Homo sapiens: one gene and its partners. The protein of the gene in region 4 interacts with the protein of the main gene of each other region in a pairwise test. Each region holds a gene or a part of one and is shown on either strand. Other genes may lie near its edges.

The links.
Region 1: the proteins of TIMMDC1 (region 4) and APOC4 interact in binary tests that used the Homo sapiens proteins (3 or more experiments, as listed by UniProt).
Region 2: the proteins of TIMMDC1 (region 4) and TVP23B interact in binary tests that used the Homo sapiens proteins (3 or more experiments, as listed by UniProt).
Region 3: the proteins of TIMMDC1 (region 4) and KIR2DL4 interact in binary tests that used the Homo sapiens proteins (3 or more experiments, as listed by UniProt).
Region 5: the proteins of TIMMDC1 (region 4) and RNF24 interact in binary tests that used the Homo sapiens proteins (3 or more experiments, as listed by UniProt).
Region 6: the proteins of TIMMDC1 (region 4) and CMTM2 interact in binary tests that used the Homo sapiens proteins (3 or more experiments, as listed by UniProt).
Region 7: the proteins of TIMMDC1 (region 4) and C5orf46 interact in binary tests that used the Homo sapiens proteins (3 or more experiments, as listed by UniProt).

Annotation. Positions count from the first base shown.
Region 1 is NC_000019.10:44,940,377-44,945,124, reverse strand, and holds the start of APOC4 (apolipoprotein C-IV precursor), read right to left. Parts: upstream 2,889-4,748; 5' UTR 2,848-2,888; coding exon 2,772-2,847; intron 377-2,771; coding exon 235-376; intron 1-234. UniProt on the Homo sapiens protein: May participate in lipoprotein metabolism.
Region 2 is NC_000017.11:18,779,437-18,784,288, forward strand, and holds the start of TVP23B (Golgi apparatus membrane protein TVP23 homolog B), read left to right. Parts: upstream 1-1,746; 5' UTR 1,747-1,857; coding exon 1,858-1,869; intron 1,870-1,877; exon of another isoform or gene 1,878-3,113; intron 3,114-4,852.
Region 3 is NC_000019.10:54,801,994-54,806,786, reverse strand, and holds the start of KIR2DL4 (killer cell immunoglobulin-like receptor 2DL4 isoform c precursor), read right to left. Parts: upstream 3,178-4,793; 5' UTR 3,136-3,177; coding exon 3,096-3,135; intron 2,897-3,095; coding exon 2,861-2,896; intron 1,995-2,860; coding exon 1,710-1,994; intron 837-1,709; coding exon 543-836; intron 1-542. UniProt on the Homo sapiens protein: Receptor for non-classical major histocompatibility class Ib HLA-G molecules. Recognizes HLA-G in complex with B2M/beta-2 microglobulin and a nonamer self-peptide (peptide-bound HLA-G-B2M).
Region 4 is NC_000003.12:119,501,056-119,505,125, reverse strand, and holds part of TIMMDC1 (complex I assembly factor TIMMDC1, mitochondrial isoform 1 precursor), read right to left. Parts: intron 1,595-4,070; coding exon 1,506-1,594; intron 1,173-1,505; coding exon 1,105-1,172; intron 1-1,104.
Region 5 is NC_000020.11:3,928,344-3,932,413, reverse strand, and holds part of RNF24 (RING finger protein 24), read left to right. Parts: 3' UTR 1-4,070. UniProt on the Homo sapiens protein: May play a role in TRPCs intracellular trafficking.
Region 6 is NC_000016.10:66,577,682-66,582,364, reverse strand, and holds the start of CMTM2 (CKLF-like MARVEL transmembrane domain-containing protein 2), read right to left. Parts: upstream 2,903-4,683; 5' UTR 2,758-2,902; coding exon 2,473-2,757; intron 2,340-2,472; coding exon 2,181-2,339; intron 1-2,180. Other genes in the region: CMTM1 (CKLF-like MARVEL transmembrane domain-containing protein 1), read right to left, coding at 3,364-3,534; CKLF-CMTM1 protein, read right to left, coding at 3,364-3,534.
Region 7 is NC_000005.10:147,896,539-147,900,608, forward strand, and holds part of C5orf46 (uncharacterized protein C5orf46 precursor), read right to left. Parts: intron 504-4,070; coding exon 455-503; 3' UTR 446-454; exon of another isoform or gene 1-445.

The DNA of each region.
Region 1 (4,748 bases), on a different chromosome or scaffold from region 4:
CATCACAGTGGAGGCCCCAGCTCTCCCCAGGTGTTCTCTGCCCCATTTATCCGCTCCTCTCTGTGACCTAGGAGTTCCTGCTCTCAGCTCTAACCCTCCACTCCTCCCAGACCTAGGGGTCACAGCCCCACTCCCACCCTTTCCTCCTCCCTGAGACTCAGGGGTCCAGGCCCCAGCCCCTCCTCCCTCAGACCCAGGAGTCCCCTCCCACCACCCAGCCCAGCACACCCTCACCAGAACCATTGCCACCCGTCTCTGGTCCTGTTCACCACTGTCTCCAGCAGCTCCTTCATCCTGCCCCTCACCAGGCTCCAGCGACTCATCTTTAGCTTTGGTGGGGGGCTCAGGGTTCCTTCCTGGGCCTCTGGCTGGCATGCTAGGTGGAACCAGAGGGCAACTTGGGTAGGCTGGGACCCTAGAATCCCCTTCTCCCTTTCCCTCCATGCTCATCCTGTGTCGCTCCCGGTGGCCCAGGGGCAGCCCCCTGCCAGTCCTCTTGCCTCCTGCCTTTACCCTTATGTGTCCCCTGACCGCTAACCCCTCTTTAACCATCAGCCATCTCTTTTTTTTTTTCTTTTTTCTTTTTTTTTATGAGACAGAGTCAGTCTCTTGCTCTGTTGCCCAGGGTGGAGTGCAGTGTCATGATCTCGTCTCATTGCAACCTCCACCTCCTGGATTCAGGCAATTTTCCTGCCTCAGCCTCCCGAGTAGCAGGGATTACAGGCATCTGCCATCATGCCCGGCTAATTTTTGTATTTTTAGAAGAGATGGGGTTTTGCCATGTTGGGGCCTCGAACTCCTGACCTCAAGTGATCCACCCACCTCGGGCTCCCAAAATGCTGGGATTACAGATGTGAGCCACCCCGTCCGGCTGGGCCATCTCTTCACCTTGTGTCAGTAGTCCCTCCTGTCACCCTGTCTGCCTGTGGTTCCCCTCTAATGGCCTCTCTAATTGCCATCCTCTGATGCCTCCCTTCACCACCTGATTTTGCTGCCCAGGAACTACCCCCTTCTCCCTTCGTTCTCCTGTGACCCCCACCCTGTCTGAGCTACCTCTGTGGACAGTGGAGGGAGAGCAGGAGGTGACTTTCTGCCCCCAGGGGCAGACATTGGCTTAGCCTTGCTGTCAGTTCCTCTTTCCGGGCCAGACCTTCTACCCACGCATCTGGACAAAGCCTCGCCTACAGAGACCAGCCGTCACGCGGGGGCCACATGTAGCTAGCTGTGTGCCTTGGCCGGTGACTTATCCTGTCTCCCCAGGACTGTTTCTCCTTTTGTAGAACGGGGTAATAATATCTACCTCAGGGTTATCGTGAGAATTAAGAGTTACTACATACGATGCACATGGAATGGTGCCTTGCACATTGTCTACATACGTGTTAAATTTTTTTTTTTTTTCAGACGGAGTCTCGCTCTGTCACCCAGGTTGGAATGCAGTGGCGCGATCTCGGCTCACTGCAACCTCTGCCTCCCGGGTTCAAGTGATTCTCCGGCCTCAGCCTCCCGAGTAGCTGGGACTACAGGCGCATGCCACCATGCATGGCTAATTTTTTGTATTTTTAGTAGAGATGGGTTTTTACCCATCTGTTAGCCAGGATGATCTCAAATCTCCTGACCTTGCGATCCACCCGCCTCGGCCTCCGAAAGTGCTGGGATTACAGGCATGAGCCACCGTGCCTGGCCCTGTATTAAAAATTTAAATTTCTACTGGATAATGCTGATCTAGAATATGATCCCATTTTAACATAAAGTACATGGCCGGGCGTGGTGGCTCATGCCTGTAATCCCAGCACTTTGGGAGGCCAAGGCGGGCGGATCACCTGAGGTCAGGATTTCAAGACCAGCCTGGGCAACATGGCAAAACCCTGTCTCTACCAAAAATATAAAAAAATTAGCCAGGCATTGGCCAGGCGCAGTGGCTCACGCCTATAATCCTAGCACTTTGGAAGGCCGAGGCAGGCGGATCACGAGGTCAGGATATGGAGACCATCCTGGCTAACACGGCGAAACCCCGTCTCTAGTAAAAATACAAAAAATTAGCCAGGCGTGGTGGTGGGCTCCTGTAGTCCCAGCTACTCGGGAGGCTGAGGCAGGAGAATGGCGTGAACCCGGGAGGCGGACGTTGCAGTGAGCCAAGATCACGCCACTGCACTCCAGCCTGGGTAACAGAGCGAGACTCCGTCTCAAAAAAAAAAAATTAGCCAGGCATGGTGGCGTGTGTCTGTAGTCCCAAATACTCTGAAGACTGAGGCAGGAGAATCCCTTGAAACGGGTAGGCGGATGATGCAGTGAGCCAAGATCGCACCACTGCTACCACTGCACTCCAGCCTGGGTGACAGAGTGAGACTCCGTCTCAAAAAAAAAAAAAAAAATGCATATGCAAAACACAGACGTACACACCAGCACACACTCACCCCCTCACACATGTCCACACACTCAAATATTTTGCACACACATACCCCACAGAGAGACAGGTGCACACAAATACACATATGCACACAGACATGCACTTTTTTACCACGACTGCATACTCCCACTTCCACGCACGCACGTGCACACACACAGATGATCCCAGTTTGTACCAATGTGACATTCACACTTCACTCTCAGCCACCGACACACACACTCCCCGACACGCACATGCATACGCACGCCATGAAACGCACACACTCCGTACTCATGTCTCACGTGGCTACAGAGCCACAGGACACACAGCCACACTCACACCCACCAGGTGTGGGCCCCACATCCCTCCACCCACTTCTTCTCACCCCCAATGCAGGCCAGGACCAGCACGCAGAGGCACAGGGCAGGCAGGGCCTGGAGCCTGTTTCTGAGGAGGGACATTTCTGGGGGTTCCGTGCCTCTGTCCCTCTGTGCTCAACTCTGCGGGCCGGGGGAGGGGAGGCTGCACAGAGCAGGGCCCTCCCCCGGCCACCTCCCCGCTTGGCAGAGACTTCAGAGAGCAGGGCCCAGGTGACAGTGGCAATCAGAGGTCATGCCTCTGTGGGCCTCCCTCCTTCTCACCCTCCCACACAGTGCCCTGAGAGAAGACAGAGGCTCTTGAGCCTCCTGCACTGAGGCAGGTTCAAATCCTGTCTCCACCTCCCATGACAGCCTCATTTGCTGGCCTCAGTTTCCTCCTCCATAAAGTGGGAGGCACAGTACATATTTCAGTATATTACTTGAACAAATACAAAGAAAGGCGCAGTGGCTCACGCCTGTAATCCCAGCACTTTGGGAGGCCGAGGTGGGCAGATCATATGAGGCCAGGAGTTTGAGACCAACCTGGCCAACATGGTGAAAAACCCTGTCCCTACTAAAAATACAAAAATTAGCCAGAAGTAGTGATGCGTGCCTGTAATCCCAGCTACTTGGGAGGCTGAGGCAGGAGAATGGCTTGAACCCGGGAAGTGAAGGCTGCAGTGAGCCGCGATCACACCACTGCACTCCAGCCTGGGTGACAGAGCAAGACTCTGTCTTGAAACAAAACAAAACAAAAAATGAAGAAAGCTCTTACCGTGGAGACTGGCAATATAGGTGCTCAAAGATCATTGCTGTTGGCCAGGCGCGGTGGCTCATGCCTGTAACCCCAACACTTTGGGAGGCCGAGGCAGGCGGATCACGAGGTCAGGAGATTGAGACCATCTTGGCTAACACGGTGAAACCCCATCTCTACTAAAAATATGAAAAATTAGCCAGGCGTGGTGGCAGGCGCCTGTAGTCCTAGCTACTCGGGAGGCTGAGGCAGGAGAATGGCGTGAACCTGGGAGGTGGAGCTTGCATTGAGCCGAGATCGCGCCACTGCAGTCCAGCCTGGGCGAAAGAGCAAGACTCCGTCTCAGAAAAAAAAAAAAGATCATTGCTGTTATTATTATCTTGTGTCTAATTTCTCCTAGTCACTGGGCTGCAGGGCCAGGCTTGTGGTAGGGCCTCAATAGGGCCCAAGGGTTGATGAGAGGAAATAGCAACACAGTCTCATGTCTCCAGCCTCTGTTTCTTCCTAGGTGGGCTCGAGCCCGATCACTTCCAAGCATTCCTTGAGTTCTCAATTCCAACTCTTTCTCCTCTGGGTGACTCTGGCTTCAGATGGACCTGGGCTTCGAATCCCTCACTTCTTCACCGTGTGACCTGGGCAAATACGTTTTCTTTTCTGGGGCTCAGTTTGTTCAACTGTAACACGGGGTTGATAGGGAGCACCTGCCTCCCAGTGTCCTCATGCAGGACGGCTGAGGCCTATGCAGGAGAGCTGCAGGTGCACATAGTAGGAGGTCATCAACATCAGGCCCAGGGCCAGGGCGGTGGCTCCCACCTGTAATCCCAGCACTTTGGGAGGCCGAGGCAGGCGGCTCACTTGAGGTCAGGAGTTCAAGACCAGCCTGGCCAACGTAGTGAAACCCCGTCTCTACTAAAAATACAAAAATTAGCCGGGTGTGGTGGAGCGAGACCTTGTCTCAAAAACAATAACAACAACAAAAACCAACAAAAAACCCACATCAGGCTCGGTCCCAGTGCCAGAAATAGAGCATTTTTCTCCTGAAGGACCCAGCTGCACCCCAGGGCACATGGCTCAGGGGACTATGGACTGGATTCTTTTTTTTTTTTTTGAGACAGAGTCTGGCTCTGTCGCCCAGGCTGGAGTGCTGTGGCGCGATCTCGGCTCACTGCAAGCTCCGCCTCCCAGGTTCACGCCATTCTCCTGCCTCAGCCTCCCGAGTAGCTGGGACTACAGGCACCCGCCACCACGC
Region 2 (4,852 bases), on a different chromosome or scaffold from region 4:
AAATATTTGATATCATCAAAATAAGAAAACAGAAGGAGGTTGGGCGAGATTAGCATCTGTAGTCCCACTGAAAACAATTTAGTGAGCATTAGGAAAGCCCAGTTTCGTTGATGGGGGATGGGGAGATGATCACTGGAAATTAGATACCATTCATCACTACCAATTTAGTGCTATTAGTTCTTCTGGCAAATGAAGTTATGGGATTATATCAGGGTCATGCATTGGTGTTTTCTGGTATTTTTGCACAGAAGCCTGATAAAACCCATTAAGAATTTAAAAGGGGAAGCCCTCAGTGGGGTGGACCTGTTGCATTTGACAACATTGAGCTTTTCCTTCTCAGGGCTAACTCCTAAGGAAGAGAATTAGCATATTTATCCTCTGTACAAAGAGGGCCAGTAACATCAAGTGCATTGAGGTTTCTGCTTAAACCTTTGGACTATGGTGCAGGGACCAGGTAATTTAGAAGAGTGCAGCCCACTACAAGAGCTATGGCCCATTAGAAAGTTCAAGCCTTGACCAGGTGCGGTGGCTCACGCCTGTAGTCCCAGCACTTTGGGAGACTGAGGCGGGTGGCTCACCTGAGATCAGGAGTTTGATACCAGCCTGACCATCGTGGTGAAACCTCGTTTCTACTAAAAATACAAAATTAGCTTTAAAAATTAGCTATTAAAAATTAAAAGACGATAATGAATTCAAACACAATGTCTTAAAAAACCAAAAACTACGAAAAACAACACAAAACTCCACAGCACTGAGTGGACCACTGAAAACCTGCCATGGGCAGGCTGGACGTACAGGCCCCAAATTTGTTAGCTTTTCATCTCCAAGGGCACGAATGCAATTGTGCTGCCGAAATGTCTTGCCTTTAGAAACGCGTGTGTGTGTTTTCCCCCTTTCATTATTAGAATATCAGGTTTTAAATGGCACTGGCAATCAGCCACGTAAAATTTGTGATTTTAATAGAATCCCTTCAATTAAGGACACGTGCAAATACCACTATGCCAACAGCAGTCTGACTCGGCCAGACAGATAGGATATTGTCATCATCACCGCTTCAAAGATGACTTAACGCCCCTTAATTTCACATCCTTTGTTCAGGCAAGATCACAGCATGAGCGGCTGGACTTAAAACTGTAGTAAGTATAACGTCTCCCATTTACTAGATACTTACACTGTAAGGAAACCATTATCACCCCCACTTTACAACTGATGAAAGAAGTACATAAAGGTTGGTGATATGATTGGCAATAGAGTTCCCAGGCGCCTAAGCTCCAGGGCGCAAGGTCTCAACTCCTGGCGTCTAAGTTTATACCTCCCATAATAATACCGTCCATTAGTTACTCTAGAGTCCTCCTGCCTTGTTTTTCTTAACGTTTTACTTCTCTGCAAGAACATATTTTAAAAAGTTGCTTCTACAATTTAAAGTACAAAAGTAATACTGTACAGGAGTAAGTCTTTGTAAAATATTTAAAGAAAATTATATTATACAATAAAACCCCGCCCCCCTGCATTCGGGGCAGCGACACTGGGGGAACGACTTTAGAATTTGCATTGGGTGGACAGCAAATACTTCCGTAAAACAGACCATGAAGCTTTCCACTTAGAGCCCACTGTGGCCCCAATACCTTTCCCTTTCGCTCCTGCTCCAGGCTCCGCCTCCGCCGTGTCCGGGCCGCTCGCCCCGCCCCCGCTCGCCCCGCCCCTGGATTTGCTCCCTCAAAGCGGAAGTGAGGCCGGACTGAGGCTCTTACAGTGGTCCCTGCTGGCCCTTGGTGACGGGTCGCCTCAGTTCCGACCCGGACCCGTACGCTGCTGCGCTGACGTGGCTCCCGGAAGTAGGGCTGGCGTAGGGCCGCCATGTTGCAGCAGGTGAGGGGCTGAGGGCTCGCTGGGAGGGTGGCGGCTCCTGGGACTGGCTCTGCAGGTTCCGTGGGACTGGAGCCCGCGTCCCCCGCGCCCGCTACTCGAACTCGAGGAGGAGCGGGGCGGCCGGGAGTGGAGGGCTGTGGGTAGTTGTCTGAGGAGGGCTGCTGGGGGTTCTGAGGCCGCTGGGGGCGGCGTGACCCGTGCGGCGCAGAGCAAGTACTTCTTGCGGCTGTGGGGACGCCCATTGTTAACCAGCGCGAGTGGGGGTCTCTCTTTCCTCAACCCTTATTGCCGGGGTGGAGTTGAGGAGGAGCGGCCTGCGGGCCTCTTAGCTTCCTGACACCCAGGGGTGCGATGCTATTTTGTAGGAATCGGCGACACCGCCAGAGCCTCGCTTTCAAATTGCTGTTTCCAAACTAATGTTGTTGGTGATTCTCTCCTTTGTGCTCTTAGAGTTAATTGTAGTCCACATGTTGGCAACCAGAGACTCGTAAGATTAATAATATTTTTAGAAAAAACTACTGTTTATGGTCACTTAGATTGTCTTAAGTGTTTTTTTCTTTCGGTTCACACAAAATTTGTTGAGGGATTACTATGACTCAGACACGGTTGTAGGCCCAGGGATAGGGTTGTGACCAGTACAGACAGGTTTCTTGCCCCGTATTTTTGGGTTAGGGAAGTGGGTTCTAGGAGATGGGGGTTGGGTGGGGAGACACGATAAATTGTATAACCAAAGATATTTTCAGATAATTGCAAAGGCAGGGTGATGAAATAACAAGTGTCTGAGGATAGGACAACTAAGATTTATGGTCAGGAAAGACTGCTTATGAGGAGATGCCTTGAGTGGAGAAAATCTAATAATGGTTAAATTCAGCTGTATTACAGGAAAGGTGTCCCGATCCAGACCCGAAAAGAGGGTCCTTGGCCGGGCGTGGTGACTCAGGCCTGTAATCCCAGCACTTTGGGAGGACGAGGTGGGTGGATCATGAGGTCAAGAGATCGAGACCATCCTGGCCAACTTGGTGAAACCCTGTCTCTACTAAAAATACAAAAATTAGTTGGGCGTGATGGTGCACGCCTGTAGTCCCAGCTACTCGGGAGGCTGAGGCAGGAGAATCGCTTGAACTGGGGAGGCTGAGGTTGCAGTGAGCCGCGGGCCACTGCACTCCATCCAGCCTGGCTACAGAGGGAGACTCCGTCTCAAACAAAACAAAAAAAGTCTTGGATCAGGCAAGAAGGAATTCAGGGTGAGTCCACAGTGCAAAGTGAAAGCAAGTTTATTAAGAAAGTAAAGGAGTGGCTACTCCATAGAGCAACCTGGAGGGCTGCTGGTGGCCCATTTTTATGGGTATTTCTTAGTGGTATGGTTAACAAGGGGTGGATTATTCATTCCTCCCCTTTTAGATCATAGAGAGTAACTTCCTGATGTTGCCATGGCATTTGTAAACTGGCATGGCGCTGATGGGAGTCTAGTAGTGAGGACGACCAGTGGTCACTCTCGTGGCCATCTTGGTCTTGGTGGGTTTTGGCTGGCTCCTTTATTGCAACCTGTTTTTTCAGCAAGGTCTTTATGACCTGTATTTTGTGCCGACCTCACATCTCATCCTGTGATTTAGAATGCCCTGTCTGGGAATGCAGCCCAGTAGGTTTCAGCCTCATTTTACCCAGCTCCTATTGAAGATGGAGTTGTTCAGGTTCACATGCTTCTGACATTTGAACCTGCGCCCAGGCCGGATGAGGCTGGAGAAACACAACAATGTTGACTGTTCCCACTATTTATTTATTTATTGATTGATTGATTGATTCATTCATTCATTTATGAGACGGAGTTTCACTCTTGTTGCCCAGGCTGGAGTACAATGGTGTGATCTCGGCTCACTGCAACCTCTGCCTCCCGGCTTCAAGCGATTCTTCTGCCTCACCCTCCAGAGTAGCTGGGATTACAGGCGCCTGCCACCACGCCCGGCTAATTTTTGTATTTTTAGTAGAGATGGGGTTTCACCATATTAACCAGGCTGGTCTTGAGCTCCTGACCTCAGGTGATCCACCCGCCTCAGCCTTCCAAAGTGCTAGGATTACAGGCGTGAGCCGCCAGGCCCGGCCGACGGTTCCCACTTGATAAATTTGTGACGTGAACCTCAGTCGAGCCCTTAGTGCTGCCAGGCGGTCATTCTACATTTCCATAGCCCCTTCACCCTCTCGCCTTAGGCAACTATTAAAACTCAAATCTTCAACGTTTCTTCTCTTATCCTCTCTCAGCTGGTAACGTTGCTTCTTGTTTCACTGAAAATGGAAGCCGTCGGAAGACAATTTTCACACTAGCTGCCTAGTTGCATGTTTACTCAGGGTCTCATATTCTTTTATGATAATTGGACTGTTAGTGCTCCATTCTTAGGTCTTCCTGTCTACTGTGTCCTGGTTTCCATCTCCTCTTGCCTACTGGAAGGCATTGTTCTAGTAATTCTCTTTCTTGTATCATCAGTTTTTTAATCCTTTTAAACGTTTGCTCACATCAACATATAAACGTGCTTTAATTTCTCTTACCTTAAAAAATGAAAACTTGGCCGGGCGCGGTGGCTCACGCCTGTAATCCCAGCACTTTGGGAGGCCGAAGCGGGTGGATCACGAGGTCAGGAGATCGAGACCATCCTGGCTAACACGGTGAAACCCCGTCTGTACTAAAAAACAACAAATTAGCCGGGGGTGGTGGCGGGCACCTGTAGTCCCAGCTACTCGGGAAGCTGAGGCAGGAGAATGGCATAAACCTGGGAGGCGGAGCTTGCAGTGAGCCGAGATCGCGCCACTGCACTCCAGCCTGGGCGACAGAGCCAGACTCCGTCTCAAAACAAACAAACAAACAAACAAAACAAACTTGACACCACATGCTCTTTCACTGGTCACTCCATTCTTTTTCCTTTAAAGACTTGTATCATATATGCTTGTCTTTTAATTCTTCCAGTCTCTCTTGTATTCATTCTAGTCAGTC
Region 3 (4,793 bases), on a different chromosome or scaffold from region 4:
ATCCACCTGCCTTGGCGTCTCAAAATGCTGAGATTACAGGCATGAGCCACCGCACACAGCATATAAAGGTATTTATGATCCCTAGATTTTACACTTAAAAATGGTAAAGTTGATAAATTATATAGGTATATTTAACCTCAATCAGCATTTTTTCAAAGGAAAAGAAAAAGTGTAGGGGTTGCTGGTGATGACATCTCTGTGTAGGTGAGAGGCCAGGGTGGGCTTCTGGGAAATGGGTAAGGTTGAGGGGCTGAGGGAACCTCTGATCTCCCCAAACTGAGCCCAGTCTCCCTCCTCTGGGTCTGTCCTGACCACTTTCTCCATCTGCCTGGGTACCCGGAGCCCTTACTGCAAGCTTCCATGCAGGCCATGCAGGAGGGTTTGGAGGTGCCCTGTCTGCCATCCTGTGCCCTGATCCCACCCTCACACCATGCTGCATCTTCTCTCCACATCTGTCCATGCTTCTCTCCATCATCAGCAGGAAGCTCCTCAGCTAAGGCTCTAGGACCATAGGACATGGGACAGACATTGGCTTTCCTCACCTGTGACAGAAACAGGCAGTGGGTCACTCGGGTCTGACCACTCGTAGGGAGATCCATGGAAAGAGCCGAAGCATCTGTAGGTCTCTCCGTGGGTGGCAGGACCCAGAGGGAAGTCGGCCTGGAATGTTCCATTGATGCTGGGCACTGCAGGGAGCCTAAGTTCATGGGCTTCCCCCTCCCTGGATAGATGGTAGATGTCAAAGGAGCTCTGGGAGCTGCAGGACAAGGTCACGTTCTCTCCTGCGCGAACCGTGGGGCCCGGCCGGGCTGTAAGCGAAGGTTTCTCATATAGACCTGGAAGGAGAAGAGGCAGTTTCCTCAGGGAGGTTCTTCCTTGTCACAGCTCCCCTCCCACCTGAGCTGAGAACTCACTGCCCTGCTCTATGGCCTAGTGCTCTCTCTCTCTCTCTCACCCTCCACCCCCAACTCTTCCTGTCGATCCCTCCCTATGTGGTTCCAGCCTGGTGGTGGCATCAGCAGTGCACCCTTGCTGATCTCAGGGTAGCCAACCTTCTTGTTTGGTTTTTTAACTTGTCCTTCACCTGGGTTCCTGTGTTGGTTTCCTGTTGTTGCTGGAGAAAATTATCACAAACATGGCGGCAGGAGAGAACACACTGACCCCTTCCACTTCTGGAGACAGAAATCAGACCCTGTTCTTCCTGGGCTACAATCAAGGCATCTGCAGGGCTGCATTCCCTCTGGAGACTCGGGAGAATCAGTTCCATTGATTTCTCCAGCCCCTTCGTGGCTCGTGGTCTTCCTCCACCTTCAAAGCCCACAGTGGCTGGTGGAGTATCCCACGATGCTGCTCTAATCCCCATTCTCCTCTTCCTTCTCCACTCATATGGACCCTTGTGATTACACTGAGCCCAGTGGGAGAGTCCAGGCCATCTCCCCATCTCAAGGTCAACTCATCAACAACCTGAGCTCCATCTTCCCCTTCAGTCCCCTGCCCTATAACATAGTCACAGGCTCCAAGGATTACAATGTGGCCATCGATGGGGACAGTTATTCTTTCCAACACAGCACCCATTCCCCTGTATTCAATCCCCCTTTACCCCAAATATAGTTGGGGCCTGGATGATCGGACTCTGGTGGACACCCCCACCAGAAGCTCTGGGACTCAGGAGGTGGGACAAGGAGAAGCCCAGACAGGAGCCCTCTGACCTGTGACCATGATCACCAGGGGGTTGCTGGGTGCCGACCACTCAGTGGGGGAGTGCGGGTGAAAACCTCGACATCTGTAGGTCCCTGCGTGTGCTGGGGTCACAGGGCTAATGAGGAAACTGTTCCAGAATATTCTGTTGTAGAGCTCAGGGACAGGGACCCCATCTTTCTTGTACAGCGTGAAGATGTTAAACCCACGACGATAGTGACACCGAAGAGTCACGTGTCCTCCTTGAGGCACCACAGCGCTGGGCCAGGCAGAGCAGAAGGGCTTGTCCTGACCACCTTGGGGAGAAGGAGATGCCGCCTCAGAGAGGAGTATGTTGAGCTGCCCCTCCCTCCCTGTGCTCAGAAGATTCTCCCCATTTCTTCTTTCTAAGGCTCCTACCACACCTGGGTGCCTGGGGCTACAGGAAGGACCCATCCCGCATAGACGTGGCGTCTCCCTACAACAAAAGTGTCAGTTGAGAACTGAGCAGGTGCTGAGTAAGGGACTCTTACTAGATTTTAATACTGCAAGATTAGTTACACCAAAGAACACAAAGTAGACATGGGGTGGAGGGTATGACCTTTGTGAATGGAATATTAGCTAATGCCTGAACCACAATAAACAACTGAGCTCCATCAGAGGATTTGGAATGGCAGGGTCGTGGCTGTGGTTCCCCCACCTCTTCTGGCAGAATGACAGCAGCCACACTGCAGCCCCTACCGTCATGGAAACGCTGGAGGGTGTGAGTTACCCTCTTGTCCTCAGAGGACCTGCTGTTCCTAACACTGCTACCCTTCCCTCCTCTGTCGGTGACACCACATCCCCCCACACACCCCAGCTTTGAGCACCTCAGTATCCCGCCTGGGCCACACAGAGCTCAACTCAGCCATGGGGAAGAAAGGCTGGGGAGGGCTAAGACAAAACAGAGGGCTGAGCATACCAGGATCTCCTCTTACTAGTTCATGAGAGACTCCCAGGATCTCCTCTTACTAGTTCATGAGAGACTCCCAGGATCTCCTCTTACTAGTTCATGAGAGACTCCCCCCAGGCCTTCCCATGGTCAGCCCATCAGCCCACCCTCTGTGCTGCCTCCCTCCCATTTCTGGAAAATTCACTTGTATTGGGGTGAAGATGGCAACCCATCATTTGGGGAAGGACTCACCCACGTGTGCCCACACACTCTGGTCCAAGAAGAACCCTGCAAAGAAAGATCATGATGAACTATTCATCTCGGCAGCAACCTACCCTTTCCTCCTGAGCCACTGGGCGCCACGCTGGACTGAAAATTAACTCATCCTCACCACTCACTTGCTTCAGAACATGGCTCTCTGCTGGGGAGACACCCAATCTGCAGGCCCATAGTGTAACCCTGGTGCTCCTTCCCTTCCAGGACTCACCAAGACATGCCAGGATGATGACCGTGGGTGACATGGACATGGTGCAGCTTCTGCTGCCAGGACGCAGTGACTCGGCTCGACTGACCGGTGCAGAGGATGTGGTGAGGGGCCCGGATCGTGCAGTTGACACATTGACCACAACATGTGAAGGGGACATAGGTAGGCTTCTTCTACGTCATATGAGGTTCAAGTGGTGAATCAGTCAAGGGAGGAATGAGGGTTTCTGAAAACTGCAGACTAGACTTGTCACTTCACATCATGCGCAACGGCCAGGCTCAAAACACATCTCAGACTCACTTACCCCTGCACGGGACGATTGAATTCTGCACTCACATGAGGAAATTTGATGTATTTTTTTTTGTTTCTACCTGAGATTCAAACTCTCCTTGATATGTAATATGCAAAATACCTAATAGGTTTTATTAACACTATAGAGCAATCGTATTAAATAAATCATCATAATTTTCCATGGTTGTATTTTTCCTGTTAAGCCAGAAACAGATAAAATGATTTAAATCCCAGTAGAAAAGACTATATAGTTATTTCGCATCATAGAATTCCACCTTATTAGCAAAAACACAATATGTCAATTGAAGGTCTGGTCGTGTTATCTAGAATTTGTCTTATGACACAAGAGTCCAAATTCACAGTTCCCTGTCTCCCTTTTTGTCTCTCTGTAACGTGTGCTTTTTTTCTCCCTGTGTTGTTTGTGTGTCTTTCTTTCTCTCTCTCATTTGAGGAAAAAATATCAGACTGATAACATCCTCCAACTTGATACTGGAATATTGCAATAACTGAAGGTTGAAATCTACACATTTAATGTGCTGTCATTCTTACAAATGTCTCTTATTTACACCTATCTTTCTGGAGTTTGTAAGAACTTTTTCACTATGCATTTTAAATTTGTAAAACTCATAATTTTTAAAAAGGGATGGGTCTCACTGTTTGCCCAGGGTGGCCTTTACTCATTCTATAAGGCTGGCATCACCCTGATACTAAAGACAGAAAAGAACATTAAACAAAAGAAAACTACATGCCAATATTCCTGATGAACATAGAGGCAAAAATCCACAAAAAATACTAAGAACTGAATCCCGCAGCATATCAAAAAGTGAATCCACCATGATCAAGTCAACTTTATTCTTAGGGTGCAAGGTTGGTTGAACATACACAATCAATACATGTGATTCATCACCTAAACAAAACTAAAAACAAAAACCACATGATCTTCTCAACACACATGTAGAACATACTTTTTACTAAGCATTTCTTCATGTTAAAAGCCCTCAACAAGCTAAGCATTGAAGAAACATAACTCAATATAATAAGAGCCGCCTGTGACAAACCCACAACCAACATCATACTGAATGAGTAAAAGCTGGAAGAAGTTCCCTTCATAAGTGAAACAAGACAAGAATGCCCACTCTCACCATCCTATTCAACATAGTACTTGAAGTCCTAGACAGAGCCATCAGGAAAGAGAAAGAATTATAAGGCATCCAAGTAAGAAGAGAGTAGCAGAGAGAGGTAGTCAAATTACCTCTGTTTGAAGATGAGATAATTTCTATACCTAGAAACCCCATAGTCTCTGCCCAAAGGCTCCTACATCTGAGAAACAAACTTCAGCACAGTTTAAGGGCAGAAAGTCAATGTACAGGCTGGGTGTGGTGTCTCAGCCTGAAATCTAGCACTTTGGGA
Region 4 (4,070 bases):
TTTTTGTGGTGAGAACACTTAAAATCTACTTTTTTTTTTTTTTTTTGAGACAAGAGTTTCACTCTTGTTGCCCAGGTTGGAGTGCAATGGCGTGAACTCAGCTCACTGCAACCTCTGCCTCCTGGGTTCAAGTGATTCTCCTGCCTCAGCCTCCCAAGTAGCTGGGATTACAGGCACCTGCCACCACACCCAGCTAATTTTTGTATTTTTAGTAGAGACGGGGTTTCACCATGTTAGCCAGGCTGGTCTCAAATCACCTCTGATGATCCACCTGCCTTGGCCTCCCAAAGTGCTGGGATTACAGGTGTGAGCCACCGCTTGGCCAAAATCTACTTTTTAAAAGCAATTTTGAAGTATACAATACACTGTTAGTAACCATAGTTACCATGTTTTAAATAGATCTCTTGAACTTATTCCTCCTGTCTAAATGAAATTTTGTATCCTTTGACCAACATCTTTTCCAACCCCATATCCAGTCTCTGGTAATCACCATTGTACCTTCTATTTTTAATGCTCATTAAAAAGAAAATATACATATATATACTAGAGGCAGAGAGCTTTAAAATAAAATCCAAGTTCTTACCATAAAAAATCTAGTCCATTCCTATAGTCCTCACCAATCTCATCTCAAGCTACTCTTTCCCTCACTCACCACGTTATTATCCTGCTTTTAAGGAAATGTTTTGCCTTAGAGCCTTCCCCCTTGATGTTCCCTCTATTTAGGACACCCTTCCTTGCAAGTCTTGCTCCTTCCTATTCTTTGGTATCAGCTCAAATGTCACTTCCTCAGAAAGGCCTTCTTTGACTACCCTGTCCATATGAGATCCCATTGTTCCACCGAATTGTTACTTTCTATCACAACAACCTGTATTATCACATACATATTAGACATTAAAATTCAAAGAAAGCAAGGGCCTTGCTGTTTTGCCCATTGAGTATATCAAGGGTGAAGCACAACACTGTCCATAAATACATTTTGCATCAATGTTGATGAGATGTAATGGGAAGCCAACCAAAGAATTCAGTAGTTCTGATGTATAAGTCCTTACACATTTTCTAAACTGTATTTGAGAAGACTGAAAAATATAAACAAAAATGTCTTACCTCCTGCAATTACAAAATGGCTTAAGGCATCTTTATTTCGGTATACATTCAGACTAGTGTTCACTGTGCTGGTAAAAAGGGAGGAGAAGGAAAATATAAGATTTAAAGCATATCCCATTTACCTTCTTGAGTGTTATTTTCACTGACTTAATAGATTTAGAAAAGCCTACTATATCAATCCCTGTTCCTAGCCTAGGCCCCTTCAATGTGTTCCAGACATGGTTGTAAAACCATAACTACACCAGTCTTTTACACAGAGAAAAGTTCTTGAAAAAAAAAAAAAGGCATTATTAATCACTTTCATGTGGGTATTCAGTTTTCATAACCCCACCTGCTCAAAAGACACACTCCTAAAACAATATCAAGAAAATTCACTATCTCACAATTCAGAGTGAACTTACTTGAATATAGTCACAAACACTGCAGTTCTCCAACCCCAGCGCCAGCCATAACGAATGAAGCCTCGTGTGGCAGCACGATGTGCAGATTGCTAAAGTTAATTAAAAAACTGTGAGGTTCTAAGACACCATCATATTTTCCTTATTCTAGAACTGCGGTAGAGGAATTTTAGCTATGGATTAGTCAGGTACACCCAAACAGATAGAAATACTAGAAAATCTCTAGAAATACTATTCTTTAAGTATTGAGGCTTACGTAAAAGTTCCATGTGTAGCCTATCCTATCAGGAGATGAAAAAATGGTTGAGTATCCCTTATCTGATACTTGAGACCAGATCCCTTATCTGATACTTGGATTTAGGATTTTTTCAGATTTGGGAATATGCGCTTTTAACACTTACTGGTTGAGCATCCCAAATCCAAAAAACCGAAATCTGAAATGCTCCAATGAGCAATTCCTTTGAATGACGTGTCAATGCTCAAAAAGTTTTGAATCTGAGCATTCAGGATTTCAGATTTGTGCTGCTCAACCTGTAATGAATTATAAATCTACAGAATAAAATAAGAATCCATGAGTCCCTACTGATAGAAATAAATTATAAATAGATAAATAAATATGTAAATAGAGGGGGGAAGGGAAAACACTTCCTTAGAGCATAATACTAACCAATAAATGTAGAAAGAATGATAGACTTTAGAAAATGCCCATTTGGCCACCACAGTCATAATTGTTACAGGAAGAATCATCATTAAATGCTAAAACTGCCTGGGTATGGTGGCTCACACCTGTAATCTCAGCACTTTGGGAGGCAACTAGGGAGGATCACTTGAGCCGACAAGTTTAAGACCAGCCTGGGCAACATAGCGAGATCCTGCCTTTACAAAAAAAATTTAAGAATTAGCTAGGCATGGTGGTGTGTGTTTGCAGTCCTAGCTACTCGGAAGGCTGAGGCGGGAGGAAACCTTGAGTCCAGAAGTTTGAGGTTGTGGTGAGCTATGATCGCGCCGCTGCACTCCAGCCTGCACTGAGGCAGGAAGACCCTGCCTCAAAAAATTTCAAAAAAAAAATTAATTAATTAAAAAATAAAAATAGGCTGGGCACAGTGGCTCACACCTATAATCCCAACCCTTTGGGAGGCCAAGGAGGGGGTGAACTGCTTGAGCTGAGGACTCTGAGACCAGCCTGGGCAACATGGCAAAACCCTGTCTCTACAAAAAATACAAAAATTAGCTGGGAATGGTGGCACATGCCTATAGTCCCAGCTACTTGGGAGGCTGAGACAGGAGAATCGAGTGAGCCTGGGAAATGGAGGTTGCAGCAAGCCAAGATTGTGCCACTGTACTCCAGCCTGGGCAACAGAGTGAGACCCTGTCTCAAAAAATAAATAAAGGAATAAATAATTTTTAAAAAAATAAAAAAATTATAAATGCTAAGAATTTAGAATAGTTTTTAGATAGTAGAAATATTATAGTTTATAATAGCATTTAAGTAGTAGAAATTTGATGAAAAGCAGGATATTTACATAGTCTCAAAGGAACTAACAAGTACTCAAAATACTTATAAATTACCAAGGAAAAACATAGTAATTTTACAGTGTATAGTTGGCAGAGGCCATCTTAAGCAAGTCACTGAAGTAAACATCACCAGTAAAGGGACAGAGATATCATGGGTTTCTAATTTAATTTCAGTTCTAGGGTATTCCTGTCAAAAAACATAGTCTGAATGCAGTCATGAGAAACCATCAAACAAACCCAAATTGAGGGACATTCTACAAAATAAATCACCCATAGTCAAGGCCATGAAAGACAAAAACAGAGAAACTCTTCCAGACTAAATGAGACCAAAGCAGCATAACAGGCAAATTCAACATGTGATCCAGGGTCAGATTCTGGACCAGACAAAAAAAAATTTAATTAATTAATTTTTTAATAAGAACTCAAGCCTAACTTCTGAAAAATACATTTTTTTATTTATTTTTAAAATAAATGATACTGTGGGATAACTAGCAAAATTTACAGGTCTTTAAATAAGATAATAGTACTATATCTGTGTTAATTTCCTGATCTTGATATTATAATTGTGGTTGTATAAGAGAATTTCCTTGTTTTTAGGAAATAACACACTGAAGTATTCATCATGTCTATAACCTACTGTCAAGTAGCTCAGAACAAATTAGTACATATTATACAGAGGGAGAATGATAAAACAAACATGGTAAAATGTTAACAATGGAGAATCCGGATGAAAGGTATATAGGAAATCTTTGTACTAGTTTTGCAACTTTCAAGCCTGCTATAATTTCAAAATAAAAAGTTAAAAATTCTCTGAGCTTTAATATTCTCACAAAAGAACTGATGTACAGATCTAATGATGTAACAAACGAGTTAGCACTCTATAAAGTTATAAATGTTAACTATTGCTTTAGTGTGAGCTCCTATACTCATGGAGGCTTTGTGAATGAGGTAAATATGTTACAGCTGAGCCTTGACGATTTAGCAGGGGATTGGAAGAAATGTATTTGAGAAAGAAAAGCCACAGTGGTGATGCCAAACATGCCTGTTCTGAAG
Region 5 (4,070 bases), on a different chromosome or scaffold from region 4:
TATGTGTGACCTATTCGTGGTATGCCAACTGGACTGCTTCCTAAACAGGACGAGGAAAGTGAGGAATATTTTTATATGAAAGCCTTAGCCTGTCTGGCACCCATGAAAAAAACTATTTATGCACTCCTACTTTCACCGTCTTTTTGCATTCTCTATTTGTAGCACAACAGAGTTGAATGCCACAAAACACCCCGTTTATAGTGAGCTGTTTTCAGTGACCAATATCAGAAGGAGGCTTGCTTCTGGACTAGCCTCACTAATTGCCAGCAGCCACCATTTTCCATGGAATGGCCTTGGGACAGATGTCACCTCTGTTATGGGGCTCTAATAGGAAAGAGAATGTTTTTTCCCTTCCTATGATCAATACTGCAAATTATTGCTGCTCACAGCTTTTATAGGATTCTCCCAACTGAAAGTTGCAGGCTTTTTCTGTCCCTGTGCATCAGTACTAACAAAAGACAGCCTCACCAAGTCTGTATATTTGAACAGAGGCAAGTTAATTCATCCCCCCGTGTCAGAGCCACAGGCATGTTGAGGGGGTTGATACGTAGCACTGGACCAGGGCGCAAAGCCCAGATAGTTCCAGCCATGAGAGGAGAGCACAAGAATGCTCTGCACTCTGCACTCAGCACCACCTTGGGTCTGCTTTGCCCAGATGAGGGACCACTAACAACCTTCTCAGCACATGTGAATGTGGACTGGTTTTAAAATGCATTCATTCTGCTAGGATTGGGCTGGAAGCTGGAACAGTGAGAGTACTTTTTCTGCTCCTAGTCATCTCCCTTTCTCAGCGTGACATCCTCCTGCAGCAAGCCTAGTATCACTAGCAGTAGTTCCTGCGACTCTTAGCAACACAACCCGAATATTTGCTCCCTGCATCTGGGTCCTCCACCAGGATGGGCCTGCGCATCTGCATTGCTGTACAGACAAACAGGCCTTTTAATTTACATCCTCCTTTAATTCTCATTAAAATCGCAGGGTTTTTGTTTGAAAGACAGTCCTTTTTTTATTTATTTTGAAAAAGGAATGAGTTAGGGACCCCTTTATAACTCTCTTGGCTCAGACTCGAACCCCATGGTAAAGTCACCCTTTCCGCATCTATCTTCAGGAGTTGCTGGGACTTGTTACTGTGTAGCTGCGTGGGGATTCTGGTCTGCTCTTGGACCACTGGCTGGTATCCTTTGTGTGTTTCTTAAGCAGCTCAAAGATAGAATGTTGCTGGTCTGCTATGGGTTAGTGGAGCATAACTCAGCCCCAACTGGACTCCACGGGTGGCTGAACCATTAGTAGTTGCTAGGGGTACAACTGAATTCAACTGCCTTCAGAAACAGGGAACAAAACCAGCCTGACTTGATTCCTGGTTGGGTCAGTATCAGACACTAGGAAGTTGACATCTGCTGCTTTTCTTTGCCACGTGTGATTTGGTTAGGCCTGTCCCTGGCAGATAAGGTCCTTGAAGCCTATGCTTGCCTAGCCAGGGAAGGCAGGACAGAAATGGCCAAATAGGGGCAGGTGGCCCCTGGGAAGGTCTGAGCTGAGGGATACAGGGGACCTCCCACCATTGCCGGATACCCTGTTCTTGACAAGAAGATCCTTTTCCCCAGTGCCAAGCCCCTTGGATCCATCAGAGAAATAGCCTCGGGCCTTGTCCTTTTTCACAACCCCACTTCAAAATCATGTCATCTCCCTGGCCTGATCCCGCTCTAAGCTACTTTGAACAACTAGGAATTATTTTTCTCAGAGGCTTTTTGGGCATTATGAAATACATCCTGATACATCCAGGGCAGTATACCCAGAGCTCCAGGCAGAGAGTGATGGAATCACCTCTTGTCACTCACTAGCCTTAGGCCCTTCTGCAGGTTAGCCTCTCAGTCTCTTCCTTAGCTTCCTTAGCTACCACCCAGGGATTGTAGTAACGTCCCTGGCACCTCTTGTGGGGGTTAGCTGGTGCCCAGAGCCTGGTAGGCAGCAGGCCTGGTGTCATGGGGGCTGCTGATACCACATAACATCATCTGGGTTACATGGGCTCCTCTGCCATCATGATTGATAGGAACAGAACCTCAGCCAAAAAGCTTCCTGAGCTGTAGGGGCTTTCCCTGAGGCCCAGGTTCACCTGGCCCCTTTCTTCCTTGGTCATCTCTGCCTTTGCCCACAGTGAACTCTGACTTGGTTGTTCAGTGCTGAATATTTCTTTCTTAATGTTTTGAATAGGTAATCCATTCATGTGGTTCACAAATCATAAAGTAGTTAAAAGCCTTTCTTGAGTTCCTGATGCCTAGCAAGCTCCGCTCCTCACTCCATGAATACCTACTATTGGTTTGTTCCTTGGGTATCCTTCCAGAGATCATTTATGCATGTACACACATGTGTATGTGTGTCTATATAATTTTTCTCCTTTTCTACTCATGTGATACCAGACAAGTGTATTCAAGGAACGCTCCTACTAATGTGGGAAGAGCCATCCCAGAAATCAGAATACAAAATGTGAACCCAGAATTGGGGGATGTTTTTGCAATCACACTCCTGTTGAGTAAGACATATTTTCATTTTATTGCAACATACTGAAATTTTAGTTTTCTGTACAAATCAGAATCTGCAGTCCCTCCCTTACCCCAAATGCCCAGCTAATCCAAGAGCACAACCAGATTTTTCTGATTGACTTTCTATCTGCGACAGGATGCTCAAGATCAGGCTCTGTAGCTGACAGCAGTGGCACAGGCCTCTCCCAGCTCTGAGCAGCCTCTGCAGGTGCCTGGACAGCTGCTGGCCCCTCCCCTACCTTGGCCAGTTCCAAGTGAGGACCAGTGGTGATGTGTGGCTGCAACTGTTGTGGTCACTTAGGCAAGCTCTTGTGTCTTTGATGCAGGAGTTTGAGCAGCAGCAACTGAAGGCTTCTATTTTGTGGGGCAGACATCTTAGCTACTGAGCAAGTGCACAGTGAGTCTCATGTGGATATGCCTGAATGTCCAGCGTCAGTTCATGGAGCTACTCCCTTTCCCTCCCAACTTTTCGTTGTTGTTGAGACAGGGTCTTGTTACCCAGACTGGAGTGCAGTGGCACCATTGTAGCTCACTGCAGCCTCAACTTCCTGGACTCAAGTGATCCTCCCGCCTCAGTCTGTAGCTGCGTCTACAGGTGCACACCAGCACACCTGGCTAATTTTCGTAATTATTTTTTTGTAGAGACAGGTCTCAACTCACTATGTTGCCCAGGCTGGCCTCCTCACTCTGTGCACACACTTTGAAAAGAAAATGCTTCTGGTCGGGCGCGATGGCTCACGCCTGTAATCCCAACATCCCAGCACTTTGGGAGGCCGAGGCAGGCGGATCACCTTAGGTCAAGAGTTCAAGACCAGCCTGACCAATATGGTGAAACCCCCTCTACTAAAAATACAAAAATTTGCCGGGTGTGGTGACGCATGCCTGTAATCCCAGCCACTCAGGAGGCTGGGACAGGAGAATTGATTGAACCCGGGAGACAGAAGTTGCAGTGAGCCAAGATCCCCACTGCACTCCAGCCTGGGCAACAGAGCGAGACTCCGTCTCAAAAAAACACACAAGAAAAGAAAATGCTTCCTACAGAATTTTCCCTTTATGCCTTGTTTTCCATTTGACAACAGAAATTACCCCAACAATTTTTTTTTTTTTTTTTTTTTTTTTTTTTTTTGAGACGGAGTCTCGCTCTGTCACCCAGGCTGGAATGCAGTGGCACGATCTTGGCCCACTGCAAGCTCCGCCTCCCAGGTTCACGCCATTCTCCCGCCTCGGGAGCTGGGACAACAGGTGCCCGCCACCACGCTCGGCTAATTTTTTGTATTTTTAGTACAGACGGAGTTTCACCGTGTTAGCCAGGATGGTCTCGATCTCCTGACCTCGTGATGCACCTGCCTTGACCTCCCAAAGTGCTGGGATTACAGGCGTGAGCCACTGCGCCCGGCCAATAATTTTTTTAGTTTAAGTTCATTTTTGTCCCCGCTGATGAAAGTTAGAGCTGCTTCCTCCAGGCAGCCCTGGGAGTAGGGGCACAGACTTGTGCCTCGCTTCCCAGCAGCTGCCCAGTGCCTCTGTCCA
Region 6 (4,683 bases), on a different chromosome or scaffold from region 4:
CTCTCTCTCTGTGTGCTGTGTTCTGGGTAATTTCCCCATACCTTTCAGTTAACAGTTCCCTCCTTCAGCTATGTCTGATCTGTTTTTGAATTCATCTATTGACATTTTTATTTCAATAACTATATTTTCTATTCTAGACACTGTACTTTTTAAAAATCTGTCTATTTTGTCCTCATAGTGTCTTACTCTTTTCTCAGGACTCTTATGTCTATAATCCCTTAAAATATATTATTATTTTCAGACAGCTCTTCTATTATCTCATATTCTCAGGATTCTAATCCATTTGTTGTGTTTGTTGATTCTTAGTAATGGGGATTTTTTAAAATCAGGTGTTTAGTAGTTTTGAATTATTAGTTCATTTTTGACAAGGTTTTCCCCCCACCCCCACTGTGAGAATCTCTTCATGCCTTGATTGTGATTTTGCATTTGTTTCTATCAGGAGTCCAAGGATATCAGCAGAATGTCATCAGACTGGGATCAGTTTTTATGGTAATTCCCAGGGATGAAGGTTTCTGGGCTGCATGAAGGTTTCTAGGCTGCAGATAACAAAAATTCAAACTCCAATCTGTACAAAGGGCAGGCTTAAGCTTTCTATTTCTCAAGGAAGACTTCCTCTCCGCCCACTCAAAGCTCAGGCAGAGATGAACATGTTTTCTTATTCCTCTGTGTTGGGAATAAGAAGGGTATGTGTCTTTGTCCATCTTTTCCCTAAGGAGGTAGTCTTTCCAGGGCGCTGGCTTTATACAGGGTTTTCAGTTCTAAATTCCCACTTTGCTTAGGATCAAGGCCTTATTTCCTGACTTGAGAGTGCATGAAAATCCAGGCTGTAGGTTCCTGAGACAATACCTCTTGGACCATTCCCACTCATACTTTGTAGCTTATGTGATCACTGCCCTGTTTGCCATTTCTGGCGCCTGTGTGTTTTCATTTCTTTTTTGCCAGCTCATTCATTCAGTTAAAGCAATACTGGTTACATTTCCCCTGGTATTTTTAGGTAAGCACAGTGGGAAGATGTTCAGGGTTCATTGGTTTTTCATCTTGCTGGAACTAAAAATGTCTTCTCAGGCTCCTTGTTTAGGAACTTGTCCTCTGCCTGTCCTTTTACCTTGTCCTCTGCTTGTCCCTTTTCTGAGAGTCCTTATTTGGCCCTCCTGTCCTTTCTCCCTGTATCGGAGGTCCTCATCTGCTTCACCAAGACCTCTGGATCCCTGGACCCTAATAGTTTTTAACAAGAAGGCAGGATGAAATGTACTCATAAAGCTAAGTTTGAAGCTTTTTTCTGCTACTTACCAGCTGAGTGACCTGGGGGCAAGTTACTTGGCCATTCTAGGCCAATTTCCTCATGTGTAACGTGAGTGAAACAGTGAACAAGAGGGCTCTGGAGGCAGGCTGTGAATGTGCAATGAACAAAGGGACTTGGGAATTGGGGTCTTCATTGACTGGCAAGGGGTTAGGTGGTTGTGCCCTGTGGTTAAACAGGTGATGGGCAGGGATTCAATTCCATGAGTCCTCAGGCACGGTGTCAAGCAATTTACATTTAATCCTCAGGATTGAATGTCAGTTCTGCAAGGAATGTGACTGTCTCATGTTACAGATGAGGAAACAGGCTGGGAATGGTTTAGTAACTTGCCCAGTTCTGTCTCTTTCCACTAGATGACTGCTTTGGGCTGAACATCCTTCTGATCCAAACATCCTTTATAGGGATATTCACTGGAGACCTAACGCTGCTTTAGAAGTGATTTTTAAAAAAAATTCCCATTTTGTTTTATTTTATTGACTTATGGGAGAGTAATTTTCTTCTTTGAATTTTGGGAATGGGGTCCTTCTGGGGTGATCTCCTGTCAAGTGTGAGCTGGCACAGGAGTTCGGAGGAACAGCTGGTTGCTACACCTCCCCTTCCCCTAAAGAGAACAAAGGCTCAGGCCCTCTTTGACCACCAGGTAAGTAAGAGTTCCCCACTCTCACTCCAACACACAGATAGGCTTTTTGGAGCATTTTCTGCCTAGCTACCCCTCTTGCACCCAGCTGCCTCTGCCTGGGCCCCACTGATGTTCTGAGTCCCTGACCCAGGCACAGATATGGGAGGTGAGGTGTGTCTCTCTGTTTGGTGACTTTCCAGGTGCCAAGACACACCTGATCAGCATTCTGGATGCAGGCACTCCCCATCACCCCTTACTTACAGAAATGGGCCACAGGATGAAGGGTATGTATCTATGAATGGCAAAGCTGTACAGTAAGATGAAGAAGCTGAAGAAGGATATCTCCATGGTGATGATAAGCCTCAAGATGGGGTGCACGGTGAGTGAGGACAACAGTATCATTGCAGCTATTAGGCAGCCCTGCAGTGAGACATAGACACCTGAGCCAGCAGCAAGGGCCTTTCACCATCTCTCTGAGGACCCCTGGAGCCTACTCCTCCTTCCCCCCACCCTCGGCCAAGGCCCCCCACCCAGGGATACCAGTTTAGCTCACCAAACTCCGAATCTTGATCTCAGCGTGCCCCAAGAGCCAGAACTCTTTATTGCTGTCTTTTAATTCCCACCGGTAGCGGCGACACCCCCTCCTCGTGCCCACTTCGTGCTTGGGCTGCACCGCCTTTTGAGGTTTGTCCGATGGCTCCTTATGGTCCTGCACCGCCTTTTGAGGTTTGTCCGATGGCTCCTTACCGTCCTTCTTGTCTTCCTCGGGTTTGGCCCCGGGTGGAGGTGGAGCTGGTGCTGGCTCTGGCTTGGCCCCCTTTGCCGCCTTAGGTGCCATGACTGACTCGGTGTCCTTGGCTTCTCACAGCTGGCCTGTTTCTTCTCTCTCCTGCTGTTTCTGGGTAGGCCAGGCCTACTAGAGTGCCTGGTGTCCACCGAGCGGCTCAGAGGGCGTGCTCAGCTAACTGCCAGGACCACCGAATGCCAACTCCCGCGCCCTCTCCACGCGCGCCCGTCTCCTCGCGCAGCTCCCATCCGCCCGGCAGCGGCCGGATCCTCCCACCCTCCACGCGCCGGCCCCCGACGGGCCCCAACTCCGTTCCCAACCCGCCGGTCCCACCTCCGCGCGGAGCTGCCCTCGCGGTCCCATCCCGGCGTCTCCAGGTGGCCCCAGGTCTGTAAGCCGCCGCTCCGCTGCGGGGTCGGGGGGCTGCGAGCACCGGGTCACGGCCCTGAGCTCCGCGGGCGCAGCGCCAAGCGCAGGAAAATACAACGCGACTTTCACACAAGGCAACGAGAGGAAGCAGGTGTTCTCGATAAAAGCAGCAGCCCTAATTTTATGGTCACATTTAGGCTGGAATGGGTGACAGCATGCGAGCTCGGGGGTGGGCTCGGAGGCAGCGATTCGACAGACACGTGCATCTGCTAGGGCGCCGGGCTGGCTTCAGGCGGGCCTCTGCGGGGCGTCGGGGCCGGTTTCGGGGTAGGCGTCCTTGGCGGGGGAAAGCTTCCTTTCAACTTCGACTCCCAGGAATCTTTTCAAGTTGGTCCTCATCTTCGTGGTGACCACAAACGCATCGATGCAACACACGATTACCGCTGTGAGACACAGGGACTGTCAGATACAAGACCATATGCGGGAAGGAAAGACGGGGTTATTTTGCAGCTCAGTAGCAACCTCTCGAACCTATCCCTATCCAGGGTGGGCGCTGCGGGTGGCCTCCTGTCCCCTCTGACCCTTCACTACTTTCTTGGCGCCTGCCCAATTGGCTGCTGCAGGCGGATTCTGCCTTTCCCAGAAAAAGGGATTTTGGAAGTGGGGGATTTTGTTGCCAGTAGTAGCCTCGCTTGATGTCTGAGGCACCCGGAAAGGACTAGGGAAGGGCAGTGGCCCTAGGTGGCTGCAGGTAGGGGTTAGGTCCTGAGAAGCCCTCTCCGTGGAAAGACTTTTGGGCTATGTTTGCAAAGGGCAGGAAGGAGTTCCTAAGGGGAGGAGGAGGACCCAGGCACTGGACTAGGGTCTCTAAGGAATCTGGTGTGGCCAGGACCTCCAGAGCCGCTGAGAAGGGGGCAGAGTTGAGGCTGGAGAGGTGCAGGATCTGGGACTCTATCAGGAGGTCAGGTGTGAGATTCAGAAAACCTGCTTGCAGTGTTCATGAGGTGAATGGAAGGTGAACCAGGCTGGAGGCAGGAAGACCAGTGCGTGGTGGGGTGGGATGCTGCCATCCAGGTAAGAAATGGATACCTGGGGGTGGGAACCCCTGGCAGTAGAAGGAGTGATAGCGGAGTCAGCCGATGGGGACCAGGGGCTGATGGCACAGATATTCCCCTGTGCACTCCGGGACTCTTGACAACCTTGGATGTTTCTCTTTATGGTCACTTAATTCCTGGCTGCTTAATGAGCTTTTCCTAGGTATGTCTTGCCCCAGTGAATCTGTGAGCTTCCCCAAAGGGGAAAGGGCTCTATCCCCAGCACTGAGCTCATGTCTGGCACAATCAATGGGATTGACAGATATTTATTGATTATAGAATGAATTCAAATGAACTCTTTTTCTGCATTAATTTCTGTTCTCATTGTTTAACTTCTTGAACCAAAGCCCTACCTCCCCTCCCAACCCCCTGAATCTTCCAAGCATTTGATCTGCCATTTCTTTTGAGTCCCAATTTGTCCCAGTCTTGTGGCCCAGAGCAAGGTATTTAACCTCAGTTCCTATATCTGTACAAATGAGAGTTGTAAAGATTAAGTCAGAGTGTGCCCTGCTTG
Region 7 (4,070 bases), on a different chromosome or scaffold from region 4:
TATTGTTTGCCCATATATCTAACTGCGTGAGATAGAAAGTTTGTTATCCTTTCTCTCTGAATTAGGTTCAGCAAATTTCACTCTTCTTATGAGTAACTAACTGCATGATTACGTGGGTCCTTAGATTGCTAGTGCGTGCTAGCCCCTCATTTCACAGGCTGAACTTGTACAAAGCAAGTTCCTAGCAGATTTGTGACAGGAATCAGGTCTCCAAACTTGCCATCCTTATTCACTTCATCTCACAGCTCTACCTCCTCTCTTAAGAAAATTTTATTATTAGAAACTTGTACATGAAAAAAATATATTCATTTATTTTTTTAAAATGTACTTTTTCTGCTTGTAGGTAGACATGGGTAACCAAAATTATTAAATAAAACTGGACAGACTCTTTTTCCTTTGTCCAATACACTGTTATTTCAGTTGTAAATTTTAAGTGAAAAATCACCTGAGGATGTCACTTTGATGAATGTTTTCCTTCATTATCATCAAATTCCATAAATCCTCTTGAGAAAAAAAGAGAAAATAAGAATTACAATTGAGACTGAACAGGAGTGTTAGAATGATCACTAAGGCGCTGTATAATGTTTGAGCCACACTGTTCTTCTCTAGATTTTTCTATGTCAGAAAGAAATAAGACCTAAAATTTCTACATAGTTCATAGTGGGCAAGTAATTTATGCATAATTATCTTTTTTGCATCTGCCAACAAACCCATTAGTTAGGTATCTATTCACACATAAACTCCATAAAGTCATATATTTTGGTATATTTTTCCAGTAATATATCCCCAGCACTTAGAACAGTGCATGGCAAATAGTAGAAATTAATAAATATTTGTTGAATGCATCTTTATTATCTCTTTTTATGTGTGAGAAAACCTTTGAAGCTTAAAGATTAAACAACCTGTCCAAAGCACATGGCTGGTAAGTTACAAAGAAAATTTAAAAATTTGGCTCTCCAGAGTCATTACTAAATGCTAGAAACATTATGCCCTATGGCTTAAGGACTGGGTACCAGGGTATCTGCTGAGATCGTAAAAGATAACTAAAATATGGTTTGTGAATTGCAGTCTAGTGGAGAAAACAGACAACTCAGATACAAGTAATTTAATACAATGTGGGGATAAAAGTTGTTATGAAGATTTCTGCAAAGGATTATGAAATCCCTGAATATGAAAAACTGAAATTTCTGATGTTAAGTGTCTATGACTTTTTTACAGAGTTTGTTTTTGAATTGGGCTTTAGAAAATGATTAGACTTGCCAAGTGAACAGAGTGGGGTTTTGGCTTTGGGGCTAGGCATTTTCAGCAGAGGGAAAAATCACACGCACAGATATTGGGGGTTTATACAAACATGACCTGCTTTAAAATGAAACTCATTAGTCATTGGGGCTTCAGGTTGCAGAGGTGAGAAATGTGACTGAAAGATACATTGGCATCAGAGAAGGACATTTGACATCAGCCTAATGCATTTGCTTGAATTTTGGAGGCAATGGAAATTCATGAAAAACTTTCAAGCATGGCAGTGATATGACCAAATTTAAATTTTTTTGATATAAAGTTCTGGTAGTAGGTAGAAGATGAATTGATGAGACAGAAGGTGGAACTTATTAGAAATCCAATAAAAAGAGAGACAGAGAAAAGTGAAACTTATTAGAAATCCAATAAAAGGAACTTGGGAAAGAGATGATAAAGGACTCAACTTGACCAACTAGTCAGTGGAGCTGAGGAAGAGAAATGTATATAGGGTGCATATACATATACCCGAGGAAGGTATATAGGGTAGAATATTCAGCAATTCGATGAAGGTGATGATGAGCAGGAAGGATTTGAGAAGATCCTTAGATTTCTGGATTCTGGGTGGATGATGATGTGACTTAATGAGATATGGAGGAAGGTTTTGAGTGAGATGATGGGCTTGGGTTTAGACCAGTGGAATTTGAAATAGTGGTAGAAAAACGATGGAATTTTGTAGCAAGCAATCAGTTATTCCATCTGGAGCTCAGGAAAAAATTGCAACAGAAATGTGAATTTGAAACTCATTAGATTATAGGCAGTGTTCCCAATGTGTAAACTGCAATGTGAAGAACCAAGCACGTTTGGAATTCTGAGGAACAATGACATTTGGAGGGCAGGTGCATGAAGAAAAGTCAAATAAAAAGAATGAGAAAGAATGGCTAGTGGTAGAGAGAGAACCAGGAAAATACATCATGGAACCCAGAGGGGAAAATATTCCCTAGAATTAAGGGCTCTCAAAGGGTGAGAGGAGTTAAGAATATGTATATTTTTCAGAAAAATGATGAGCAAAATGCAGTCTAGGTAGCTCCAAGCTGATCCAAAAGCAAGTGGAGAGAACAATCCAGTCTATTCATTGTTTCAAATGCATGTCTCTAGCATTTACTATGCATCTGACACACCACTTAGGCATCAGACATATTGGAGTAAATAAAGTAAAATTCCCACCTTTATGAATCATTGTTATTCCTCTCATTCTCTCTTCCAAATCAAATATTGTTTAGTCATTCAAGGCCCAAATTACATCTTGCTTTTGCCATAAACACTTCCCTAAGCACACTGGACCCATTGAGAACTCCTTTCGCTGGAAACTGCCTGTGATCTTTGGCTGACATTTATCTTGCTACTCATTTTTATTTATGGCATTGTGCATTGGCTTAAGTAATTTTACCATAAGGACTGCAAATTATTTGAGGAGAAGGGATTAAGAGCCTAGACTATTCCTTCACAATCCGTGTCCCTGCTTTGTACATGTTAAGTGCTTAGCAATACTTTCTGACGTCTCCTCCTATCCTCCACCCCCTATTTTGCTTATGGTCTTCCCTTGAGCAGGGAGTTATGGGTATGTTTTAGATCCTGGCTCTACCACCCGCAGATTTATCTCTTGAGCAGATATTGCTGTGTCTTTGAGCAAAGATCCTTCAGGATTTCTCAGTCAAATTGAGGTAGATGGGCTTTAGGTCTGATCTGCAAGATATCTTTCCTTAATTAATTAATTCAAGTGCCTGACACTATATGCCATGTACTGTGCTCTTGCAACCAGTCAGGTGATTTGGTCTCTACTTTCACTTAGCTACTTGATTAAAAATAAATAAGTCATTTCGGATGGTAACAAATATTATGACACTGTAACAAGGTAAAGTGATAGAGAATAACAGGCAGTGGGAATGGAAGAAGACAGTATTAACAAGAATGGTCATAGAATAGTTTCTGAGGAAGTGACTTTTAGATTAGCTGTAAGCTCAAGAACTAGTCATTAGAAAAGGAGAGTATTTTAGTAAGGAGGGAGAGCAAGGGAAGAGAGCCTGAGATGGTAATAATTTCTAGCAACAGAAAGAAGGTCATTTACTCAGAATGTAATGAGGGAAAGGGAAACCAGTAGATGAAGGGCCATTTCTGAGCCTAGAGCGGACAGCAATTCTTTAGCATATCAGAGAGTCGACTCTTATGGTTAACACAGAGAAAAATGTCCTATTTTATACTTGGAAAATTCCCTAGGGAAGGAATGAAAAGAACTCTTAGTGTTCTAACTCCTTGTTTTGCTGTGTGGATGTAACAATACTAATTCAACTGGAGTCTAATCTTTAGTTTGTATGTAATGGGTGGTGCTCCTATTGTCGGCCTATGACTTTCCTTCTTGTTTACATTAACAGTCTTGGAAAAATAACAGTTGCAAAAGCAACCACAGTAGGAAATGTAACAATTAAAAAAAAGCACCTGTGAGTTTTAACAATTTGTGGAGAAGGATTGCCTGTAGAACACTGCCCAATCAGATGACAATCTATCCCTTTAAGCAGATCAGAGATTACAAAACCCCTGATTACTCCTACATGGAAGTGGTTCTTAATCTGCTATTGGTTAAAGACCCCTTTGAAAATCTAATAGAAGTCATGAACACTTTCCCCGGGAAAATGCAAAAATAAATAAATAAATAAATCACACTGACACAAAATATTAATAAAAATGTAAAGGTTTTGTGGATCTTTAAGGCCCATCCATGCAACCCAGAACATCTGATCAAGGCATGGCTTTTGAAAATTTCTGTATATCAGAATTAC